Homo sapiens: one gene and its partner. The protein of the gene in region 2 binds, or shares a complex with, the protein of the main gene of each other region. Each region holds a gene or a part of one and is shown on either strand. Other genes may lie near its edges.

Region 1 (6,565 bases), about 100 Mb from region 2:
AGAAGCAGGACGGTACAGTCCCCACCTAGTGTTTTTTCAGTTTTTTGTTTGTTTGTTTGTTTTTGAGATAGGGTCTCACTCTGTCACCCAGGATGAAGTCCAGTGGCACAATCATAGCTCACTATAACCTCCAACACCTGGGTTCAGGCAATACTACTGCCTCAGCTTCTCAAGTAGATAGGATGACAGGTGCACACAACCATACCTGGCTAATTTATTTATTTATTTATTTATTTATTTGTGTGTGTGTGTGTGTGTGTGTGTGTGTGTGTGTGTGTGTGTGTGTGTAGACACAAGTTCTTTCTAGGTTGGCCAGGCTGGTCTCAAACTCCTGGGCTCAAATGATCCTCCTGCCTCAGCCTCCTAAAGCACTGGGATTATGAGTGTGAGCCATTGTGCCTGGCCTAACTTAGTGCTTTTGACGGAGTGGAAGGGGAAGCAGAAGCTACCAGTGTGCGTTGATATACAGGACCCTGCAGTCCCCTTCTTCCCAACCTGCTGCACAGAACCAGACAGACAGGGCCCTGGGCTCTGATCAGACTCTTTTTATTGTTTTGTTTTTTATAAACAAGTCTCAGGTGGAAAAAGAAAGAAAGGGAGGAGCTAGCTCTCTGCCTTCTCAGCCAATTGAAATCGTGGAAACCAATGGGCTTCAGCTAGCCCCACTCATCACTGCTGGGGGGGAAAAGACATCCCTACTCCCCTTCCCCGTGGCACTCATGATATTCTCAATGCCCCAACAAGGGTCATCTTGGTTCCTAGGGAGAGAGAGAGAGATGCTGTTTTGTAAAACCCTGGCCCAGGGCAAACAAGTCCAGGAAGGGCTCAGGCTTTCTCTCTCCTAACCCAGTTCTCCTACGGTGAGCCCAGGCTCCTCTATTATGTGTCATCTTGTCCTCACCCCTTGTCATTTCTTTTGTTTTGTTTGTCTGTTTGTTTGTTTGAGACAGAGTCTCACTCTGTCGCCCAGACTGGAGAGCAGTGGTGTGATCATGGCTCACTGCAGCCTTGACCTCCCAGGCTCAAGCTATCCTCCCACCTCAAGCCCCCTGAGTAGCTGGGACTACAGGAGCATACCACCACGCCCAGCTAATTTTGTATTTTTTGTAGAGATGGGATTTTACCATATTGCCCAGGCTAGTCTCAAACTCCTGAGCTCAAGGGATCCGCCCATCTCGGTCTCCCAAAGTGCTGGGATTACAGGCATGAGCCACCACGCTCAGTCCCCTTGTCACTTCTACAGGATTCCTCCCTCCCCCTCACCCTCTCGATCCCCTCCTTTTGACACTCCTCCACAAGCCCTTGCCCACCTTCCTGTTTTCCATTACGCCTTGGTCCACCCTTCCCTAGTCCTCTGCCCTCATTTTTCTGCAATCTATGGCCCCTACCTCTCGGCGTTTCTGTCCTGGCCTTTGGCTCTGGCTCCGGCTCTGACTCCGACTCCGGCTCCGGCCAGGGCCCCGGGAGCCCCTAGAGCTGCTGGAGCCCCTGGAAGAGTTGCTGCCGGCCGTGGAACATGTGCTGGTGCCCTGGCCCCGGGACAGGAAGCTTGGTCTGCTGTATGGGAGCCAGGCCTCTTCTGCAGCACAAGAGGGAAGGGTAGCCAGGTGCAGGCAGGAAGCAGAACTTCCCTGTCACCCACCCTGCCACCCTGACCACAGGCTCAGCTCTGGAAGAAGATGAAGGGCAGGCACAGGGCTCAGCCAGCCTGGGGCTGAGGAGCAGCAGAGTGACCGGCACATGGCCTTGACATCATGGGTGCTCAGAACGCTGCGGGGGAGCTCCCAATCAGAGGGAGCCTTGTGGGGAGCGGGGACAGAGCACCTAGAGCCCAGTCCTCTTATCTGGGCTTCCATCCTGGGAATGAACACAACTTGGGACTTCAGGGGATTGTGCTCAGAGAGTTAGAGAGACAGGGGAGTTTGATGTGGATCAAATGCATGAACCTAACTAAAGGGAGGGCTGAGCTGGTCTACTATCAGCCCCCAGTCCCAAAGCCCACAGTCTCCTGTGGCAGCAGCCCTCCTGCCTGCCCTGGCCCTGCTTACCATCTGGGTGGAGCACCCGCTGGGCTGCCAGGGGCACGGCCTGGACCGCTTTCCTCTCCCCACTGCGCTCCCGCTCCAGGGAGGACATGCTGCCTGCTGCCCTCAGCTCTAGGGCCCAGCTCGCCTCTTCCTCTGGCGGTGGCAAGGGTGGTGGGGGCAAGTCTGGGGAGGGAGCTGTTTTCAGCGGAGCCTCCTGCCACTCCTGTCACTAATCTTTCTCTCACCTGCATTCCCTGGCACCAGGAGGCTGCCAATGAACAGCCCAAGATTGGGGTTCACCTGTTCCCTCCTCCAGCCCCCAGAGTGCACCCTTGGTTTCCTGCCTATCCCCCCGCCACTACTGTCACCATCTCCCAGGTGCATCCCCCCTCACCCCCAGGACTGTTCTCCCTCCTGTAGGGAAGAGCCTTGGGTTTCTTCCGGAATCGAGCACGGGGTCCTTGAAGTGGGGGAGTCATCTCCCCATTCCCCTGCCAGGTTCTGCCTGCAGTGTTAGGAGACGGGAAGAGGAATGGGTAAGGGCAAAAATCAGGAAAAAGGCCTAAGGGTGAAGGGGAAGCAAGCACTGGAGGGAGCCGGGGGGCAAAAGGAGGTTGTAGAGACTTACCTGGGGCACTGCTGGCTGTGCTAGGGGCAGGACTGGGGCTGAGGTGGGGTGAGGCTGCAGGGCCAGCACCCAAGCCAGCAGGCCTCGCTTCACGGATGCCCAGCATGGGCTGGGATACACTGAGAGGGGAACTCGGCCCAAGGGGCACCCTCCTGCAATGACAGGAGGCCGCAGCCTCTGTTCCCTCCACAAAAACTGAATGCCTACTATGTGCCTGGCACTGTGCTAGACAATCAACCTAACAGATAAACGAGACACAACCCGTCCGCCCGTAAGTCCTCCCAAGCTAGAGAAGCATAAGGAGAGCCATATCTGAAATGTCTCAGGTAGAGTGCTGACCACTCCAGCAAGAGCCAGTCTAATGGGCATGAGAGATCTTGTCAGCCTCCATATTCCTGCCCAAATTACACTTCCACCCTGACACAGCCCTGAGACCTCTGTACCCCAGATCCATCCACCCATCCATCCATCCACCCACCCAGTCATCTACTGAGTAGATACGTATAGAGGGCTTGCAATGAGTGAGGTACTATATACCTCCCTACCTGGGCATCTGATGGAGATGGGGCATGTCAGTTGGGGGCTGGGGAGGGTCAGGAGGTGAGGGTGTAAGAGTGGCTGTGGACTGCTGTCCATAGGAAGGTGTGGGAGAGGGGGTTTCCCTTCGGGATGGGGTGACCAGGCACCCTCCACTGGAGCTGGGCTCCGTCAGGTGACTTCTCTCAGGCATTGGCGGGCACCACTCCTCTGGCTCTGAGCTGGGATCAAAGAGGCAGGAGAGAAGGAAAGGGCTCAGCTGCTTCCATACCTTCCCGTTGGCCTTCCTGCTGCCCCCTCCCCTTCCTCCCCAGCAGCCCATGGTCTGGCCGCAGGTGTGTGGGCCTGGAAGCAGGGAGCATCTCTACCTGCCCTCCAGCTCCTCCTCCGGCCCTTCTAGGCAGCTCAGTTCACAAGAAGGAGGAGGTGGGGGCAGGGCTTCTGGCCAGTTCAGAGAGGGCATCTGCACAGGTTTCCCCAGAAGCTTCACTTTGCCTCCCTTGGCTCCTGAGGAGAATAGGATGGGGACACCCGGAGAACAGGCAGGAAAGAGCCAGAGATGAGACAGGTCAGAAGGAAGTGCCGGGCTAGGTGCCAGAGGGTCAGGGAGGAGGATCCTCTTTGGGGATACCCTGGTCAGGGCTAAACGGGGTTTCAGGAGTTGGAGTCATACCACTGTCCCCCTGGCTCCACTCTGGAGGAGCGTACTGGCTCCAGGGACCCAGATCTCCTGAGGGATGTTGGGGGAAGCCCCCATGGAAGGTCTGCAGCTCCTCCCCCGCTGGGTCAATGGTGCTATAGACAGGACCCTCGCCAGGGGCGGCCGTGCCCCTGGCCGTCTGAGCTAGATACAGGGAGATTCCCGCTTCTGCAGAGAAGAAAGAGGGAGGCCCGGAAGCAGAGACAGAAACATAGAGGACAACAGAATGGAAGACAAAGGGAAATCCCACGGGATCAACTTCTTCCCCCACACAAGCCTTACATCCTAAACCAGGGTGGAGGTAGGTCTGAGAGGCTTCCCCAGCTCACATCCTCCCCAGGGACTGACCAACCTCAGAGAGACCGGGCTCCCGGGCGCCCTTCGGTTTGCCCCAGTAGGTCGGGAGAAGTGCGCTGAAGCCAGGTGAGGGAATGAGAACTCCTCACCGTTGTAATATCTGTCGTCCGGGTCAGGATTGCTAGGGCAGCAGCTTCCCCTGGGTTCCTGGGCCGAGGGGCTTCGAGATGGGTGGGGCCACGAATCTGCCAGCCATGAGTAGGGGGCGGGGCCAAGGCCCATGGGTGGCCTGAGGGAGAGCAGGTGAGCGTTGGGGACGGAGAGCCTGAAGAGGCCAGCAAAGGAAAGGGAGGTGGCGATATTCGGGAGTTTCAGGACAGTGGCGGTGGTGTTGGGGTGGGAGGTGGCCATGCTCCCTCCACCTGGGGCGTCAGCGGGGCGGAAGAAGAGTGGCCTGTCGGTGGAGGTCATCCTGAGGAAATGGGCTAAGAGAATTACCTGGAACTGGCTCCAGAGAGGCCCTCTGAGTGCGGGAAGGACACTGGGGAAAATGAGGGGGCGAATGAGTGAGAGAAGGGCCCGTCCCGGGGGGTCTGAACCCCACTGGGGCAGAGATGGCTTACCTGCCGGTGTGTAGGCAAAAGAGGCTTCCAGAAAGGAACCCGTGGGAGAAAGAAGAGGTGAAATGAGGAGAAGGGTCAGAAATACCCCTATACTTGTCCACGCCTAGGCCCCGGTCCCAGTTCCACCACTCAGGCTGCACCCTGGACCCATTTCATCAGAATTTCTCGGGGGTGGGACTCAGGTGTCGGTATTTTTCTCAAGCCCCTCAAGTGATTCCTATGTGTAGCCAACCAAGATTGAAAACCACTGACCTCAAACACCTCAGAATCTCTCCAGAGACGTCCCTTACTAGGAAGTAGCAGAACTCGGATCGCCTTCTTTCAGCGGGCCCCGCCTTTCCATCCAGACCCCGCCGCACAATTTACTGCCTGGGATCCTGGCCACACCCCCTCTTGCCAGGCCCCGCCCCCCGCCCTTTGAGTGGGCTTTCCGTCCTCGAACTTGCCCCTTCTTTATGGAGATGGTTGCAAAGCCTGGCCTCCTCGTGGCGTCTTAGAGGCAAACGTCATCCAGATCCCGCCCCGTCTTGGCCCGCAGCCCTCCCTAGTCCTGGCAGCTCCTCGAGTCGCCCCACGTATCCCGCCCCTACCCAAGAGGCTGAACTCCAGGTGCGACCCCTTTCTCCCGACCCGGTCCTCACTCGCCAGCGGCTAAGCCCCTGCCCCTCCCCATGGGCCGCCTGGCTCCCTCCCGGATCCGTCCGCTCCGAGGCCGGGAGCTCACCCGTGTAGTGGCTGAGCTCTTTGCGCTGTTTCCGGCGCCAGTAGAGGGCGGCGCAGAGCCCGAGAAGCAGCGCCCCGCAGGCTGCGCCGCTGCCCGCGAGGAAGGCGGGCTCCCGCAGCACCCTCGCCAGCCGCACCGCCAGCCCCGCGCCCACCTCCAGCCCGGGCTCCAGGTCCGGCGGGGACGCTGTGGGGGTCAGAGAAGTGAGGGGAGGAGGGGCCCGAAACCCTGGAACTGGGAAAGGGTCATTCCCGACCCGGCAGGCACAGCTACCCCAGTGGGGGGCTTGCCCCGCCCCCGTCAAGATCCTCAGCACTGCCCTCGGGTGGACTCACGCAGCTGCACCAGCACTGGGGCACTGGGCACGCCCACGCCTGCGCTGGTGGCCGCCGCGACCAGGGTTCGATAGAGGAGACCGGGCACCAGTCCTCGGAGCATTGCGGAGCGTGCCCAGCCTGCTGCAGATCGATTGAGGTGAAAGCGGCTCTCATTGCCCAGGCACCAGATCTAGGGAGGCCGAGTCCCGGATTTAGAGTCAGAAATGGGATTCTTAGCCTCACCGGGAAACTTAAGGCTCCAAATGGTAGAGAAGCCTTATACAGATGTAATTCAACCTGGAAACAACACTTGGAAACCTCTCTCTTCTCCCCTAAACTCATCCCCAACCCTAAAGCCAAACCTGTAATAGATTTCCTCCACCCTAATTCTAGCCACTAGGTCCTCCCTCTCCCTCCCGGCCTGGCCCTCCCATCCAGTCCCTCCTCAATCCCTCTACCTGGTATTCCGTGATGACCCCATTTTGCTGGGAGGGGAGTGGAGGTTCCCAGGACACAGTGATACTGCTGTTGCCATCACCCCCCAAGGCCACCGCCACTCCCTGTGGGGGGCCACTGGGGGCTGGGCCAGGGTGGAGCATGGTGAGAAGGACACAAATAGTCATTGCAAGCTGCCCCTCCTGCCCCAACATTCCCCCTCCCTGTTCTAACATCTTAGGGAACTGAGAGCCATTCCTCCTTCCCACCCACTCAC
Region 2 (7,025 bases):
GCTTAGACATTTATATCTTTAACATTTAGGGCAAGTTACTTTATCCCATGGAAATTCAGTTTCATTGTCTTTCAAAGTAGTGCTGTAAGAAGTAAACATGATGCAGCTTTTTTGAATTATAGGGTGGCTGAAATATAGCAGGTGCTCCAATAAGGGAAAACAAACCTAGATTGGAGTGTGGGAAACTAGGTTTATGTGAAAGGGGAAAAAATAGGTGTTGGGGGTAATGATCTAGCACTTGATAATGTGGCCCTCCTAACTAGGTGGCCCCAGGTCTGTGGATGTGTGGCAGATGAAGGCAAGTGGATGAACTGGATGATTTCTTAAGGCTCATTTCAGCTCTGTTTCAGCAGACTGGGAATTTATCAGGAGACTTGGCTAAGAGGCTACTAAGCAAGTAATTTATCTTGGTTCCCATGCACATAAAGCTCAAGATTAAATAGTCCCATCCCAACAGACATAGACATACCAGGCAAGAGCTACAGTAGAGCAATAACAAAGGAAAATAAATAGGCAAGATCAATAAAAGAAGAAATAAAGCACAAAGAGATCAAACAGTTTAATAGACCCATTTTGCAAAGCATAAAGCAAAACCAAATGATGACAGAATTTTATTTTCATAAGCATTAAGCTCACTTTCCAACAACTTAATATAAGGAATGGCCCAGCACTGAGAATAACAAAGAAGACATCAATTTCTAAGAGGCCTCATACTATCATTATCATTTGTTCAAAATGAAAATCCACCTGTCTCAGCACTGGATGCAAGTCTGTTGGCCTTGCTTTTCTAGATGATGTCATAAAGTGAGCAAGTTCATGCAGGTGGTTATTTTAGGCAAAGAGTAGTTTTAATCAGCAAGTTTGTATAAGCGTGGGATGAGGGCTCATTAAAACTCTCACCCAACCAACCTTAAAAGCACTGTAGGCTTTCAGTGGGAGGACTATCATTGGCTTTTCTACCCTGCTTCGCCTTCCCTGCAGTTCCTTCTCAATCTCATACCTCACTTTCCACTAAGAACACAATCAATTCAAAGCAGGCTTCCCTACCCCTTAGCATCATCATTAGCTGTAATGTAGATAAGAACAGGAGAAGCCTGTTCAGGAACTACAGTCAACAGCAAGAGGGAGAGAGCTGGGGAGGTAGAAAAGTGAGGGAAGAAGAGAAAGAACAGTTTCAATTTCTGCTGCACCACATCAGCCTCACCTTGCAGGAGCAGACAGAACACCTGTCTTCTTTCAAGGTCCACACCTGGCCATTGTGCTTCAGCCCCCCTTCATGAGGACAGTCACCAGAGCAGGAGGGCCCAGAGGGGCAGAGACAGTCAAAGCCCCCTGCCAGGTTGATGCAGGCAGAATCGTTCCAACAGGTGTGAGTTCTTAAGGCACATTCATCAATGTCTGCAATATAGGAAGCACAGAAGCTTAGAATCTAGCCAAGGGAACTTAGAGAACAAACAACCATCATTTGCAGTAGCATTAACTAACATCATCGACCATTTACCTTGTGCTAGGTACTGCCAAGCTGTTCACATGTATTATCTCATTTACACTGCAAGTCAGTTCTGCTCTGTGTGGGAGATCTGTCCTTATTCCTATTCTGCAAATAATGAAGCTGAGGTTCATAACTTAAATAACATGACCACTGTCATAGAGCTAGTAAGTGGCTGATCTGAGACCCAAATCTACAGCTAGCTCCCAGACTCTAATTACTAAAATATCCAGTAGCAGTTAGCAAGTTCTTTTAGGATATTCTTAAGAACGATTTCATCCAGAGGCCATAAACACTGTTAATTCATTAACAGTATGCACACACCACCATGGAGATCTGAGTCTTTTAGAAAAGATGTGAATGTATTAGCCACTGAGTAGGAACAAGTGGGCAATTTGGGCAACCTTGAGACAATCAGATTGCTCCTAGATCCTACCACCAAAGTTGAAGGAAGTGGGAACAATTCTTGATAGGTGTCTTTTATAGTCAAAGTCTTACTATCCTTATGGCCAGCAGAATATTTGCCCGTGCATAAAAAATAATTGCTATATGGATGGATGCTGATGAAAGACATAAATATATTGTCCTGCTCTTTATTGACAGCCAACAATGGAATAAAAACATAAATCCAGTCGGCCGATTCTGACATTTAAAGCTTGAGCGACCTTAACAACATCTCAAACACAAACCTGTCCAACCCTGGCTTAAGTCCTTCCCCAAAAGGCAATCCATTACCTTGCAAAATACCTGACTCCACCTTTGGATAACTCTTTTGGAAATGTCTCCCTTAAATTGAGATGAAATATACTACCGAGTAACTTCTACTCATTTGTAGAAGTACTGATACTTAGTGTCTGAGGCCATTGAATAAGTGTCTACTAGTCTACTTGGTTTTGGTTTACCTGCTATGCACAAGTTTCTTTGCACATGGTGCAATACAAAGCAGATGACATTAAGAAATTCTAATAATATTTCTAGAAGTTACTTTTTTCCAAGATCTAATTTTTGGCTTTGTCTTACCAATTTTAGCTTTAGTCAAGACATTTCATTAGTGAACAATGATTTCTCCTTTGAAAATTATAGAAAAGATCCCAAATTATGATGCCTGTATGGTAAGTCAACTAAAATCAAGCCTCACTATATCTCCTCACTGTTACTAGTCATGCCCATCCCATTCTCAGTGTATTTCTATTTGAACATATGGTGCTCCTTTCATATAGCCTCTCTTATCTCTTCAATCTTCTTTCAATTCTCTTATTCTTCTCAACTAAAAGGAGTTTTAAATGTGGGAGTCTGGTGACCAATGTTTGAAACCAAGCTCTTACTTTTTAGTTGAGTGCTTACCATGTATTAGTCATTTTACACGTAACAGTTATATATTCTTTGACATGTTACTTTGTTTTTCTCTCATTTATCTTCTATATACACTATACCCACTCAATGTATGGTCTTCCAAAAATTTTAAACCCAGCATAGCATATAAATGCCATCTAATACTGCAATTGTTATCTCTTGTCCCCTCCCTTTTCATTCAAAAGCAGTGAATACAAAATTTCAGTTAAATAGAAGGAATAAATTCAAGAAGCTCTATTGTCAAACATGATGACTGTAGTTAATAACAAGGTATTGTATGCTTGAAAATTGAGAATATTTTTGTCACAAAAAAGTAAGTGTATAAGGTAATATATATATATATATTATGTAGCTTGATTATTTAGCCATTCCAGAATGTATTCCTATTTCAAAACATCATGTTGTACACCATAAATATATATAAAATGTATTTGTCAACTGATTTTTTTTTAAAAAGCAACGGGAGATCCACAAAGAGGCCATATTGTTTCCTATGAAACAACTGTGTCTTAGAACATGCTTTCTTTTATTATGAGAGTACTCTCTCTCTTTCCCTACTTTTTCTTGTCCTATAGGGAATGAGGTGAGGTATCAATCAATTAATTGATAAGCACTTTCCTTCCTGTACTACTTTCACTCCTACGCAGTCTTAAAAATTCAGGTTAAGCCTCACCATCTCTTATATGGCAAGACAGTCACTACAGATTTTTTGCTTTCTCTGTACCTTATACACAATTCTATCCTGCATTCCTCTCTCAGGAGTTACGTGTTTAACTTGTCTACCTCCAGAGAGAGTGAGCTCATTGAGGGCAGACACTAAATTTTATTTTTCTTTCTCTTCCCAGTGCTGAGTATAACAGAATACTATATGGATATTCGATGTATTTATTCCATTTAACTTTCTTAGGAAATCCACAGACTGAGACTATTATAATGCCTACTTTGCCAAAACTCGGTCTTTAGAGTGTTCAACAAGCATAAGGCATAATCACAACCCTGCCCTTCAGGGAACACATTTTGTTGTTGAGTTCTCATCTGTGAAGGCCCTTGGGTCTAATTTAAAGTAGAAAAAATACAGCAAATTAGCAACCACATTGAAGAAGGGGCAATGCCCTGCCCCTTCCCCAGGAAAAAACTTTTATTTTCTGTCAAATGCTTGAGAACAAGGGCAGAGGAAGCATTAACAAATGGCTCCAGAAATTGTCTGGAAGTATAACTTCAACCCATCCACCACCAGTGGCTACAAAAGGGTTGGTAATTTATGGCTTTCTCTAAAAAATATCTACATTGACAACTAATGCCCAGCTATATTATGCTTTTAAAATATTTGGTTATTTTGCATTTACAAAGTTGCAAATATATTGGTAGTGATTTTCTCTCATAAATTAAGAAGGCTGAGCATAAAGATAAACATACCTATTGTGCACAATAAAAGCAGGGCGCAAAACCAGGATTTGCTTTCACTTCTCCAGAATGAAAAGATTTCACAGTTGAATATAGGACCATATTGCCTACAGAGTTCCATGTAATTGCTTTACTTATGACACAGAAATCTAATTCTGTTTCCATGCAATTTAGCAGATTTATGGAAAGCCAGATGTTAGCAATTATGGAAACCAACATTATTCATATTCTTAGTAATACAGACCTGTTTGCTCTGCACAAAGCCAACTTAATCTATTATACATATCCCAAGGCAGCCAACGGGAAGAGGCACCCTATTTACATATTGCAACTGTTGTTCTCTGCTGAGCAAACACAAAGTTATTCACCCGTGAGACTTACCCAAATCATCAGACAGGCCTCCCAATGACAAACAGGCAATGAAAGAAAAATTACACGAAGTATTTGAGTATTTCGTACTCAAATCTATTATCATTAGAATGTACTTGTTTTTCTTATTGTAAATAATGGCTGGCTGTGATCTCTCTGTGTTTCTTCTTATAAATTCATTATTTAAATGCTTCATGCTCGAATGAAATATTTTTTCAATAAAATTCCATGGCTAAGCTTGCATTAGAACTAATTTTCTTGCATTAACATTTTCACAATTTCTGAAAGCTGTTATTATTGTACTCAGTTTTGCTCTTTAAAACAATCTAGTTGTGCCAAGTCAATCTGCTTTCATCTTTGATGTGAGGTTTTTAGGTTACTTGGGCATGTAAGAAAATAGAATTCAGAGATGTTTATAACAGCAGCAATCAAACCAATCCTAAACTAGCTGCAAACAATTTTCCTACCCTTCAAGCCAAATGGCTCTGCAGAAATTTTTAATAGCATAACCACTGTATTAGTACTTGCCTCAGGAGCTAATACTTCTACAGGTTGATTTCAGAAATCAAAGTAAACATTTTACCAACAGTTTGGTAACAGGTCAAAGCAGTGAACTTTTTCATTACCCCATATTCCTCTTTCTTGAATAACTTTGACAGCACATCTAGTCTTATTTTCAAACTCAAAACAGGTGATGTGTCAGAAACAAAAGTTTACCCAGCGTTTGAATATACAGCTGTGTGTGTGTGTTCCTACCTGGAAATCATTATGAGTGGCTCAGAAATGAGAACAGAGCTTGGGGGTTCATTAATGACAGACAGTCTAGAGAACAGATCCCTCTCCAATATCTAAAGCAGTATTGCTTTTTTTACAGTGGCAGAGAGAAAATTATGGGGGAAAATATACACACTACACGTTAGCAAAATAAGTAAAATAAGTAGCGAATCTGAAGTCTGATGTAACTTGCAAAATAAAAGGCTAATGAAATTTTAACCTGCACAATAAATTTCAAATCCAGGCTAAGCGGTGGCAGCCATGCTCTATCATGTGCTGGCCATACCACACTTGGATATTGTGTTCCCTTTAGCACACAGACTATGAAGAATGAGGTTGACACAGTTAGAACACATCAGAAGAGATCCATTAGCGTGATGAGGAGCTCAAACTCATCTCACTTTGGCAAAACACAGGATGTTCAGCCTGAAAAGACAAAGACTAAAGGAAGAGATAAGTTAGAGATAGCTTCATCTATTTGAGATGCTGCTATGTATCTTTTAGGAAGAATTTTCAATACCCCTTTAGCATTAACTCTTCACTCACTGTTCCAGCCCCAAACCTTTCCTGAGTCAGGAAGAAACCCTTTCCTATGGTGTTCCCTTGTTTGGTGTATAATTTTCTTACTCTGCAATGACTCTTCCCCTTTCTTTTAATTAAGGAGACTCTCTTTTGACAAAGGAAAAATATAACACTGTTTTGGCTCACTATTTCCTTGATCCAGATTTTATTTCCTAGTATCTACAATTAGCAACTATCCGCATTTACTCATTTTCATTCTCTCCTGAATGTGTGCAAGCTTCCGTGGGACCCTCTTCTCGAAGGCTAAATCTTGAAGTCTCTCATAACCACTAGTTTGCAAAATCATCACCCTTGCTTAAAAAGTATTATAACAAATATTGTTATTGATTATTTCAGTCTAAGAGCTCTCTCTGTGACCCTTCTGGAATATAATATTGCCCTCTTCATCCTATTATCTCTTCATTATCTAGTCACTAGTACTCATCAATGAATAAATGAATTCCCTGCATATTTATTTAACATCTACTCTATGCCATTAACATCTACTCTATGCCAGATACACTGCTAAGTGCTGGAGATACAATGGGCAAAGAAGCCAGATATGGCCCTGTAAGTATTGACTTTATAGTTGTCTCTCATTTTAAAAAAATATTTGTATATCCTAAGTTTCCACGTCTGGTCCTTGTTTCTCTTTCTCCTTAGTGGAAGAAGTATAGCATACCAATTGAAAGCTTAACCTTTGTAATCCAGAAACTGCGGATACCAGTTTGCCTGGCACTGAGGGAGTTCCTGAGATAGCTGACTTTCAGTGCTAAAACTGAGAAAGTTCCAGCCCCATAGGGACAAGTGAGTCAACTCTGTCCCAGTCCATCCCTGCAATTTATTAGTTGTACGACTCTAAAAATTTACCTAACATCTCTGAGTCTTGGTCCCATTATGTAGAAAAATGTAGATAAAAATATACTCCATAGAATCATTTGGGTAAATACATAACGATATGCTTGTCATGTAATAATTGCTCAAAAATGATTAGTCACTATTATTGTTGGTCTTGTTCCTATTGTTTCTATAATTTTTCTCTCATACATTTAATCTCATTTAATGAATTTCACTC

The links. Proteins that work in one complex are often made in the same cells at the same time.
Region 1: the proteins of NELL1 (region 2) and ROBO3 are in contact, whole or in part, in a crystal structure (PDB 6POL), measured with the Homo sapiens proteins. Residues at the interface, in NP_006148.2 of Homo sapiens: Ala440, Lys441, Met442, His443, Tyr444, His446, Tyr458, Arg468, Val469, Asp470, Asp471, Phe472, Ser473, Asp478, Ile492, Cys493, Thr494, Asn495, Thr503, Cys504, Lys505, Pro506; in NP_071765.2 of Homo sapiens: Ser553, Pro555, Val590, Glu592, Phe594, Pro596, Asn600, Thr601, Trp602, Thr604, Ile624, Leu626, Arg630, Gly633, Ala634, Trp635, Gly636, Leu637, Ser638, Glu639, Pro646, Val647, Arg648.

The regions. Positions count from the first base shown.
Region 1 is NC_000011.10:124,875,432-124,881,996, reverse strand, and holds the end of ROBO3 (roundabout homolog 3 isoform a precursor), read right to left. Parts: intron 6,434-6,565; coding exon 6,312-6,433; intron 6,044-6,311; coding exon 5,872-6,043; intron 5,816-5,871; exon of another isoform or gene 5,723-5,815; coding exon 5,537-5,722; intron 5,184-5,536; exon of another isoform or gene 5,065-5,183; intron 4,837-5,064; coding exon 4,813-4,836; intron 4,731-4,812; coding exon 4,688-4,730; intron 4,479-4,687; coding exon 4,339-4,478; exon of another isoform or gene 4,245-4,338; intron 4,061-4,244; coding exon 3,866-4,060; intron 3,700-3,865; coding exon 3,561-3,699; intron 3,414-3,560; coding exon 3,201-3,413; intron 2,808-3,200; coding exon 2,656-2,807; intron 2,533-2,655; coding exon 2,422-2,532; intron 2,211-2,421; coding exon 2,049-2,210; intron 1,580-2,048; coding exon 1,389-1,579; intron 759-1,388; coding exon 747-758; 3' UTR 526-746; downstream 1-525. UniProt on the Homo sapiens protein: Receptor involved in axon guidance during development. Acts as a multifunctional regulator of pathfinding that simultaneously mediates NELL2 repulsion, inhibits SLIT repulsion, and facilitates Netrin-1/NTN1 attraction.
Region 2 is NC_000011.10:21,554,562-21,561,586, reverse strand, and holds part of NELL1 (protein kinase C-binding protein NELL1 isoform 1 precursor), read right to left. Parts: intron 1,399-7,025; coding exon 1,205-1,398; intron 1-1,204. UniProt on the Homo sapiens protein: Plays a role in the control of cell growth and differentiation. Promotes osteoblast cell differentiation and terminal mineralization.